Homo sapiens: one gene and its partners. The protein of the gene in region 3 purifies or fractionates together with the protein of the main gene of each other region. This does not show direct contact. Each region holds a gene or a part of one and is shown on either strand. Other genes may lie near its edges.

Region 1 (3,750 bases), on a different chromosome or scaffold from region 3:
GAGTGGGGCAGGTGAGTCAATACCAAGCAGGAAGAGGGGGCAGGGAGAGAGAGCATGAGTGGTAGTCTGTCCTTCCACAAGCTGCTGACAGATGGAAATTAAAGTGGTCTGGGGAGAGACATTGGGGGAGGAGGCAGTGGCGGCAGCAGAAGTACAGCAAGGCAGCAGAATTGGGAGCAGCCCTGGCTGGGGGCCAAAGCCAGCTCACCCTGACAGCCAGCTTAAAATCAGGGAGAATTTGGAGGGAGGGGGTGGCAACAGCACCCCACCCAGACTACAGAGGCCAGGCCCAAAGCCTCTCCCTGGGGTGGGGCAAAAGAAGGCTAAGGGCAGGCCCCATGAGCTAAAGAGATGTGAAATGCCCTGGCTCACGCCTGTAATCCCAGCACTTTGGGAGGCCAAAACAGGCGGATCACCTGAGGTCAGGAGTTCCAGACCAGCCTGGACAACATGGTGAAACTCTGTTTCTACTAAAAATACAAAAATTAGCCAGGCATGGTGGCAGGCACCTGTAATCCCAGCTTCTTGGGGGAGACTGAGGCAGGAGAATCGCTTGAACCCGGGTGGTGGAGGTTGCAGTGAGCCAAGACCGCGCCACTGCACTCCAGCCCAGGCAACAAGAGCAAAACTCCGTCTCAAAAAAAAAAAAAAAAAAAAAAATCCACTCCTAAAGCGAGAGGTGGCCCAAGCCACTCAGGCAGAGGTCAGTGAGCTCTGGAGGTGGCCTTGAGGAGCAGAGAGTGGCGAGTGGGGAAAACCCAAGAAAGTGCAGCTACGTCCACCCCGCCGGACTAAACCCCACTCGCCCTTCACCCCATCTTAGAAGCAGCTTTCCTACCCCTAAGCACCCAGATCATGTATAAGCTGAGCCCCTCCCGGCATGGGAGCAGGAAAGAGGGGTAGTTAGGAACACAGGGACTGAGTCCTGCCACTCCAGGACACAGCTAGGCTCTGTCTCCTCCTATGCCTGTGGCTTTGACCACAAGTTATTTGTCCCACTCTGAACCTCAGTTTATCTGTAAAATGGGGATAATAAAAGTACATAAACTGTTCTAGTTTGTTGGCAGAAATATGTGCCTAACACATAGTTAGCACTTGACAAATACAACAAATTATTAGGATAGTCATTATCATCCTCAACACGGGTCCCTGGCCAGAGAGGATGTGCCTCATCTTGTCGCATCTACACCCTTCACCTGGTCTAAACTTTAGAGTACCCTGAGGACCAAGACGGTATCCCACCCCACCCTCCACCACTGCTCCAGAGGCAAACATGGCGCTGGAACTACAAAACGTGAATATCCCAGTGTTCTGAGACCTGAAATGAGGGAGGGGTGAAGCTGGAAAGATGTGTCTAGAGAAATAGCAGCTGACCTTGACCCCAGAGAGACAGGGAGGGTGCCCAGAGAAGACTGCACGGCTTGGGCCCAGGGAGACAAGAAGAACCCACAGCCACCAGCCGTGGGAACCGGTGCAAGTCACACTGCCTCTCTGGGTCTCAGTTTCCCTAGTTTTTGTGAGGAACAATTAACAAAACCCCATGAGTACTGGGAGTAAGTTACTCCCAACTTACAGACGAGGAATCGGAGGCCCGCAGAAGAGAACAAACTTGCCCAAGGTCACAGAGGTGGTGACAGAATCAGAACGCAAGCCTGGCAGATGGACCCAGAGCCAGACCCCTCTGAGCTATTCTCAAGGACTTCTCGTTACAAAGGGAACCTCCAAAATTTTCTTTAAAGAGAAAGTGCCCATAGTGGGCCAGGCATGGTGGCTCATGCCTGTAATCCCAGCACTTTGGGAGGCCGAGGTGGGTGGATCACCTGAGGTCTGTCTGGAGTTCAAGACCAGCCTGGCCAACATGGTGAAACCCCATCTCTGCTAAAAATACAAAAATTAGCCGGGCGTGGTGATGTGCGCCTGTATTCCCAGCTACTCAGGAGGCTGAGGCAGGAGAATCGCTTGAACCCAGAAGGCAGAGGTTGCAGTGAGCCAAGATCGCACCACTGCACTTCAGGCTGGGAGCCTGGGCGATAGACCAAGACTCCGTTTCAAAAAAAAAAAGAGAAAGTGCCCATAGTGTAGAATTTCCCTACATCAGAATTTCCCTGCTCAGAACACTAGGTTCTTGGACATTAGCCAAATTAGCTTGGAAAATACTGCATTACTTGTCTTTAAGGTACTAATATATGCTAATATACAGACTAAGTCTTCTGTACGGCCACAGAGTACCCAGCATTTTCCAAACATATTCACAGACTGGTATTCTTTAGGACACATTTTAGAAAAGGCTGCCCGAAAGCATAAAATTCAAACAAGCCCCTCGAACTCCTCTCTAAAGCAACTGTTTTCGTTCGGCTTTTTGAGGAGCCGTGCTTTCTGTTAGGAGCCACGCTTTCTGTTGCATACAATGAGGCTCACCTGTATGGCATCACGGCTAACCCCTGAACTCGGGTTAAAGTCAACACTGGCCAGATTACGGTAACACAACCACAAAAGCCTGGGTGTTTTAAAGACACAATGATGACACTATCCTCCTCTTCCCCTAACCTAGTCCCATCACAATCCCCGCCCCACCTCCCTCCATCCTAAACTAAGGGAACAAGATGATCACTTTCCACTTCTTAAGAGCCACCCCACACAGAACGGAAAGGCAGAGAGCTGTGGTGGTGGGGGGGGGGGTTGGGTGGGAGGGGGGCAGTGGTCCCACAGTGGCCACACCTGAAAGCAGTTAACATATACAAGTGAGAAAGAGGTACTCCTGACTCTTTGCCCTTAAGGGGTCACACCACCTTTCGACCCTCCAGCGGAGAGGATAAAAATCACTTTCCTGCTTCACAGAGCAGCTGTGAAGATCAATGAGGTAAGACGTGTGGTTAAGCATGGGGTGTGCAAAGTTCTATGAGTCCCAGGAAGAGAAATCAGGAACAACCACGCCAAGCCTGGACTCTCCCCTGCACCAAGAACATTAAAGCTGGAACTCTGCACTTCCTGAGTCAAACCCTGAGAAACTGAGGCTCAGAGCCCAGCAACCTGCCCAGGACCACAAGGGCCTCCCAACTCCTAGTCCTGCGCCCTCCCCTCGTCCCTGCAGTCCTCAATGCAGCCTCAGTGGTTCCCTGTGCTCCGTCACCACCCCGTCAACAGCCTGAGTCGTCAGGAAGCTCCACTTCCTCAAATCCCCCTGGGCATCTCACTGGGCCCATCTTCCTCTCTCCCTTCTCCTCCTCCATCCCAAATGCCTCTCCAGAGTCCCCAAGACCACCATGATATGCTCTAGCCCCTTCCTGCTCCTCTCCTCCCACCACCAACCCCTTCCACTTATAAAAGCCCCTGCCCCACACTTCCCTTGCCTTCCCCACATACCCAGTGAGAAGCTCCCACTGTGGGGCTGGAAAAGGTAACATTTTCTGCTCACTAAAGGGAATAAAAGCGAATCTCAATGGATGGAAATGTTAACAAAACGGATGCAATGCCTTTTTAGCACGTTTCTCAGCTGCAAAACCATCTCAGCTGGTTTTAAAACATCCATGAAACAGACTGTGCTTGCCTTGCAAAGCCTTTGGAAAGTTCTTTCAGCAAATTTGCACAGAGGCCAAGGTCATGGGGCCAGGTCCCCATACCCTTCAGGTTCTTGAACTTGCTATTCCAGGCTTCAAGACAGGACAGGCAAGAAGCACCAAGTACCTAACCTCTTTGAGAACCCGTGGGTTCCACTGTCCACTCCACTCCTGGCTGTGGTGGCCCCAGCCA
Region 2 (3,750 bases), on a different chromosome or scaffold from region 3:
GGCTGCCTGAGTCACTGAGGCTGAGTAACTGGCCCTCGGCACAGGACAGGAGTAAACTACTCCTGATATCTAGTCTGTTTTTTTTTTTTTTTTTTTTTGGCAATATTCTATTGGGCGTTTTTGACTGCAATTTAAATATCTTTCAGTACTGGAAATGGTTTAACACGCAATCTTGGGTCAAAGTATGCATCATAAGGCCTCATAGAAATATTCAAATGTTAAAAAAAATAAATAAATATTCAAATGTTCCTCCCGTGGTGCGTTTAGTGGTTAGAACTCAGGTTCTCCAGTTAAGCTGCCTGGGGTCAGATCTCAGGGCTACCATTTACAGCCCGGGAAACCCTGAGTTAAAGTTACTTTGATCTCTGTTTTCAGTGTCTTTACCTGTAAAAATGAGGCTATCAAATATGTATACACTGTCTATGATGTCCAGGCTTCTTAACAACCCTAACAAAAAGACAACATCATTGTCCCTGTTTCCCAGTGGAGAAAACCGAGACACTACGAGATTAAGTGACTTGGCCCAGGCTGCACAGGTTGAGGGACCCGGATGTAAATTTAGGCAGCCTACATGCAGTCCCCGGCATCCCCTAGCCTACTGCATCTGCCTGTGGCTATTTGTGAGACGGTGAGCTAAAATGAGACAGAACCTATGTGCCCAGAACAGTTTCTGGTCTGTAGTAAGCCCATCATTAGCCTTCATCGACATGTTATGGTGTAAACGCATTTTAAACCATGGCAGGCTAATAAACACCGTGGAAACACAATTCTGTGTATTAACTGATGATCTTCTAAACTGGGGGGTGATCTAAATCCAGTAACACTTGACAAAATTTTATATAAATGCACAATGAAATGTTCTTTGAGTTTGGTTTTATTAAAGTTTAATTGATAGACTAGGAATTCCTGTACTTCTAAGACTTGATGCAAATGGTTTTTGTTTTTTTGTTTTTTGTTTTTTTTTGTCTAAAACATCTTCAGGATAGTGCAAAACCTCTTTTCTTTAATATATTATTATAAAACACTCATTAGTAGAGTCAGCACCAAAAATGTGAGATGTATTGGGAGTTGTGTTTTGAAGACAGTTCTCCTGATTCTAAACCCAAATTGTGATTTATTACCTTCCAAAATATGTGGAAGGGAGTGCGGGCCTTAAGTTCAGTGATGTCTAAGTACACTGCTGCTTGCAAGCCAGCTACACATTTCAGCTAACCGGATTAGCCTACTTCCAGTTAAAACCCGACTGAGGATATGAAAATAAATATGACTGATTCATTTAAAATCAGAAAAACACTCAATATTTTCTTCCCTCTATTTCTGGTATGCTAAGATATCACACGAGTGCGACTTAAGAAAAACTTAGAATCTTTTCATTTAAAATAAGCCATTTTTGTTTTAACCGAATGGTTCAGTTATTAAATGTCTACCTGAGTCAAGGAGCGAGGTCACACTGCAAACTCCACTTATTTCTACTAAAGGGAAATGGCCCGGACTCCCCCGCGCAGACCACCGTGCCAGGACAGCCCGCTCGGGAGTCGGGCCTGGAAGCAGGCGGACAGCGTCACCTCCCCGCAGCCGCCGGCTGGGACCCGCGGCCAGCCTTTACCCAGGCTCGCCCGGTCCCTGCCCGCATGGCGGTGCCCCACCTGGTGAGGACGCGGGCTGCAGTCCTCCCTCTGGGGATGAGTCGGTGGGCTCCTCTGAGCTCCAGCGCCCCCAGGGTCTAGACCCCTCCCATTGCTCCGCTCCCCTCTCCCCGTGGTCTCCCCACCCCCAACCCCCAGGGTTCGGCTCTCCTCTCCCGGGTCTACCCCACAGCTCAACTCCTTTCTCCCGGCTTCTCCCCGCACGGTTCGGGTCCCCTCTCCCAGTGGTCTTCCCGGACCCACAGCTCTGCTCTCCTCTCACCAGTCTCCCCAACTCCGGCTCTGCTCCCCTCTCCTTGGGTCTCGCACCGGATTCGGCCCCCACTTCCGAGCCCTGGTGGCTAAGCCCCTCGGCCTCCCTCCGGGGCGCAGGGGGTTGGAGGTACTCACGGCACCGCAGCGGGCCGGGGACTCCCGGACGGGGCTGGAGGGCGCGGGCGGCTGGTGGCTGCGGCTCCGCTGCCGGCCGAGTGGAGCGCTGCGCAGCTCCCGCCCTCGAGAAACCCCGCCGTGTCATTTGACCATATAAGGAGATGCACGCCTCGGCTCGCTGGCACCGGGCGTGGGGCGCGGGGGGCGGGCGCCCCCAGGCCTCGCGGTTGCCGTGCCCCCGCCCCGGGCTGCGGCGGTCCCGGCCCGTACCCTTTGTTTGCCAGGGCTCCTTTCTTCGTGCCCTCCGGGTCTTGGGAGCACAGTAGTTATCGGGAGCGTCGCCTCCGGCGTGGGCTCTCGGGCGCGAGTTTCGGACGAGGCCTGGGCGCGGTGGCAGGGGTCTGCCCACGCCGGGATCTCTGCCTGGTCCCAGGAGCGGGAGACTGGAGAAGCCCCAGGACGTGCCGGGGGAGGCGGAGGGAGGAGGGGGTCACTTCTCAGGAGGCATGTGCCTGGGATATATTTGCAAGGTGGACGTTTTTCCTTCTTACCCTGCAGATGCTTCTTTACGAAATGAACACCACAGATGACCATAAAGAATCCTTCGTTCCACTACGGAGGGGACTAAAGGAAGGTCCTATCCCCACCTCTCCCTCTCGGGGCCAGAAGACTAGTTAGACATCTTGGATTCCCCTCCAGGGCGGGAAAACCAAAGTGAGCTGGGAGCGTGCCTCCCACATTCCAAGCCCGGGCCCTCTGCGTGACGCTGACGCTGGGTAGGGACAGATGGCACTGTTCAGCATTGTCGCAGGGAGAGCACAGGTTGAGCCCATCCCTGGGAGAGGGTGCGTCGTGATGGAAACATTTGCTCCTGAGCAGGTAACCGGTCCACTTGCAGAAACCGGTGGACGATGAGTAGGTGGACCACAAAGGCGTCCTCGGCACTTTGGGGGCAGGTGTATTATTTTTAACATTCGGGGCAGCTCATAGGAATACATCCTCCAGAGAAGGCGGGAAGAACTCCGTGATTGCTTTCTTTTAATTGATACTCTCCGTCTGGTAGGCCTCATGGGTCTCCATCATGGAATCACAGAACTTGAGAATAAAGGGGCTTCATCACCTTAGCTTCCACTCGGTGAGCACTAGCTCTACCTGGTATCTCATTTGATCCACACTCCTTTAAGGTAAAGATTTTTACCAGATTTACGGTGAGGAAAGTTCAGCTCAGATTTGCTCCAGGCCACGTGAACGGTAACTGTGCCAGCTGAGATTTGAACTGGGATGTGGTAGATGGCAAAGCCATGTAAGTATATTACGGGATCAGAAATGCCTCTCATCCCTCAGTCACTCAGGTGACTCCAGAGGACTGAGACTTGCCATAAGCCCAGCCAGAACTAGATGTGCGGAATACAGCCCTCCCCCGACCCCACCCCACTGTGTCCCTGAAACAGGACGCTTTCCTGAAGAACCTGAGTTAAGGCCACCCTACCTGAATTTCCACTAAGTGTCAAGACAGGCTAGTATTTTGAAATTCAGAGCAAAGTTTGTGTAGAAAAGGCTCCCAGCCCCTGACAGCTACCTAGATGTGTTGTTGATATCGTTACAAATTAGGAAATGGTCTCCTAGTTCTCAAATGGTGAGTCTTAAGCTTCAGTTTGTAAAAACAAGCCCTAAAATGATGAAACATTAATTCTGCATTTATCTTCTTTCTGATTCCTTTTGTCTTATATTT
Region 3 (3,750 bases):
CAATTTTTTTACACACATCCATCCATTTTAGGATGAGTCATATACACACACAAGTGCATTGTATACCAAACTTAAACACTTTAAAGACTATCTCAGATGTCAGGTTAACCGGTTTGCTGTAGCAAATAGTTTGGCCTGACATAAATATACCTAGAATTTCTCATAAGCAAGCATAGATTAGAAAGATTATGGCTCCAATTTTTTTTCTAATTTCAGGCCAGACATGTTCATTCCCATAAAAACTACACCCCTAAAGCATTACTTTGTGCAGTAATCTGTTCGGCATATGATTACCTCAGAATAATGGTGCAATAATATGTAAAGTGTAGCATCAATGATATGTTATTACCTATTCTCATTATAACACAGTATTTGCTTTTAAGTTTTTAACGTTTCTCAGTGAATGTTTCTAATTTTTAAAAATATGAGCAGCTGTTGGATATTGTCAGAAAAGTCAAGCTTGAAACAAAAATTTCCTACTGCTGCTTGTCTTTCAAACTTCTGCATCAATTTGATTAAATATCCAGGATCTGCAAGATGATCAGATGCAAACAAAAACAAGTCTTCCATTAACATCTATTTGATTTAATAAATCACGATTTTCTCTATAAAGTAGCGCTAAAATAAATGAGAAAGAAATTAGACTCTGAGTCCAGTCTGAAGATGAAAACGGCCTTCATAATTCCCAACTTCTAATTTTCTTATTGACCAAAATAGCTTGTTTATAAACATAAATGCTAAGTTTTAAACTTATTTTAATATATATAAAATTAAGATAATGTATATAAAAGTCCTCTCTGCAAGCTGTAAAACATTTTAAAAATATTAAGTAGCAAAGCCAAAAGTAGTCAGGTGCTTGGAATGGCATAGTAAACTTAATATTTTATTTTACTGACCTATGAAAGATTCTTACAAGCAGAAAACTAAATACAAAATTTGTATGCAGGATAGGCATTATAATTTACAATGTAGAAAGTAATACAAAAGCACATTCTTGCCAGATATGACACAAAACCAAATGCTCCTCTCTCAAACACATTGTATTACATAATCAGTCATTACATTTTGTCCAGATGCTAATACAAACTGGAGCTGTTTCAACATCTGAATACACAAATGGAAAAATAGTATATCAATATGTTTGAAAAACAAGCAAGTCTACTCACTGTTACCTAAATTGCCAGGATACATAATTTTCCCTCACTCATTTTATCATTAGTTTTTACTAAGTTTTAGTAAAAACTTACTAAATGTGCATTTTCATCTACTCACGTATAAGGAAAGACATTTCCATTCAGAAAAGGCAGAGAAAGGACTGGTGTCCTGAGTACTGGATCATACTCCCTTTTTAAAAATATACACTCTGTATCTTTGGCAGCTCTTAGTCACTAAAAGGTCTCTGGAACATATACAGGCAATTAAGACATAATATTCCTAAAATCATTATCAATATTAGCATATCTACTAAAATGCAATTCTGAGAGTCATCTATCCTGTTTTGATTTCTACATCTCTAAAATGGGCAGAAAATTGGCTCACAATCTCTTAAACAAACCTATAAAGGCCAGATGTTTCTCAAAACACAGTTTCAGATTTGAGAAAGGTAAAATGTTGTATGTATCATATATGATGTAACATCTGCCAATGGCAACACCTGCAGTCAAACACGTGAACATTTCCATATGAAAATGTAGGAAAATCAGATTAAGAAAGATAATAATAATCAAATTCACAGGTATAATTCCAGTTGATATTTTCTCACCTTGCTTATTCAAAACAAAACAAAAGAAATGATCAACTTTCAGAGCTTTTTAAATTTTGGACCTCCAATAAGACACATCTCACCTTATTTCCATAAGGGCAATTTTATTCAAACTAGAGAAATCCTGCTTTCTACTAACCAATGGGCCAGGCATTAGGAGGAAAAAGGTGAGAAAAACAGAATCTATCTTCAGAAGCCCCAAATCTAATATGAGCTCATGGGTAAGTACTGGTAAACATGATACCTTGTAAAGACAAATACAAAATATCTCCTTCACATAATAGCCATAACCATACAAAATACAGCGAGAAATGCAAGAAATACAGATCTAAACATCCTGCCAGAAGCAAAACAGGGTATTAATCACTCTATTACTAACATCCTTCCCTAATTCCATACTAACTTTACACACACTTCCCTAAGAAGCTAGTTATCTATTTTTCCATATGTAATTAAGAAGCAAAACTGTAAGAAAGGATTCAAGGAAGTGAAGGAATACAGGAAGCTATTCTCCCCACCACTTTTCCAATCTGTTGCTTCAGATCTGTGGATTGTGAAACAGCACTGTCAAATGACAATCTAGCAACAGTTCAGTTTAATAGATACGTATTGAGAACCTATTAAGTATTATGCACTATAGAGGCATTCAAAACATAAACATAAACAAGTCAAGGCCATACCTCTCAGGTGCTCCCAGTCCAGATGGACAGTAAATTACAATACAGTGTGACATTCTATAATAGAAGTTTGAAGAGTAAAAAGCAATACAGCAAAGGATTTGGGGAGTCAGGAAAGATTTATGAAGAAAGTGATACCAAAGAGGAGTATGGAAGAAGTTCATCAAACAACAGAGAAGTGAAAGATACATAAAATATGCACTACCACCTGCCCCCCACACACATACATGCAATAACATACACATGAATAAAAAGAATAGGACGGGCGTGGTGGCTCATGCCTGTAATCCCAGCACTTTGGGAGGGTGAGGCAGGCGGATCGTCTGAGGTCAGGAGTTTGAGACATGCCTGACCAACATGGTGAAACCCTGTCTCTACTGAAAATACAAAATTAGCTGGGTGCATGCCTGTAATCCCAGCTACTCAGGAGGCTGAGGCAGGAGAACCGCTTGAACCCGGGAGGCGGAGGTGGTAGCGAGCCAAGATCACGCCATTGCACTCCAGCCTCAGCGACGAGCAAAACTTCGTCTCAAAGAAAAAAAAAAAAGAATAAGGAAAAGAAAATGTGCAGGGTTAAGTGGCAAATAGTCCAAAATATCTAACTATATATCTAAGTGGACTTAGATCCTGAGTCTACGCATATACAAAACCCTGAAGTGCCCAGAAAAGGAAAAATTTCCCATTTTTTCCTAAATAATTCACTTTTTTGTATTTCCATATTATATGTCATAAGCTCTTGACAAAAAGCAAACATTGTAAACTGTTTTATTACTTTATAATGCAGCACACCCCCAAGGGATATACCAACAGATACCAACAGATTTGCATCTGTATTTCAGAGAACAAGCTCTCAGAAAACACAGTACAAATTCTATTTCCAGGACATTCCTAATAGTATAGACAAAGAAAATAAATGAACAAACCACATCAGCATGATTAGTCATAAGAGTTGAATTCTAAAATAGAAATCAAAGGATGTCAAACAGAAAAACCAAAGAAATAAAAACCTAACTTTCATTCCACTTCAAGGCAAACTTTCTACAATGACATCAACTTTAGCACAGCTCTTTTCAAAATATCTGATATAAGTCACAGTGAAATTCAATCCCTTTAAGTATCACAGGTAGAAACTGCTCTTAGTAAGGAAGAACAGTCACCTGTATCATCAAGCAGAATAAGTTCTACCATAGCACTAGATCTCTTGATTAACACTGTATGTAATTCCACTCAAACATTACAGTACACCTCATATTAACTCTGCCCCTAAACTGCCCTACCTGGTACCCTGGATATTCTGCCTCTTTGTGTTAC

What was found.
Region 1: the proteins of CNOT2 (region 3) and TNKS1BP1 purify together in Homo sapiens (affinity purification with mass spectrometry; 5 studies listed by BioGRID and IntAct, with this or other methods). This does not show direct contact.
Region 2: the proteins of CNOT2 (region 3) and FHL2 purify together in Homo sapiens (affinity purification with mass spectrometry; 2 studies listed by BioGRID and IntAct, with this or other methods). This does not show direct contact.

What each region holds. Positions count from the first base shown.
Region 1 is NC_000011.10:57,304,236-57,307,985, forward strand, and holds part of TNKS1BP1 (182 kDa tankyrase-1-binding protein), read right to left. Parts: intron 1-3,750.
Region 2 is NC_000002.12:105,396,934-105,400,683, forward strand, and holds the start of FHL2 (four and a half LIM domains protein 2), read right to left. Parts: upstream 2,119-3,750; 5' UTR 1,909-2,118; intron 1-1,908. UniProt on the Homo sapiens protein: May function as a molecular transmitter linking various signaling pathways to transcriptional regulation. Negatively regulates the transcriptional repressor E4F1 and may function in cell growth.
Region 3 is NC_000012.12:70,246,404-70,250,153, reverse strand, and holds part of CNOT2 (CCR4-NOT transcription complex subunit 2), read right to left. Parts: intron 1-3,750. UniProt on the Homo sapiens protein: Component of the CCR4-NOT complex which is one of the major cellular mRNA deadenylases and is linked to various cellular processes including bulk mRNA degradation, miRNA-mediated repression, translational repression during translational initiation and general transcription regulation.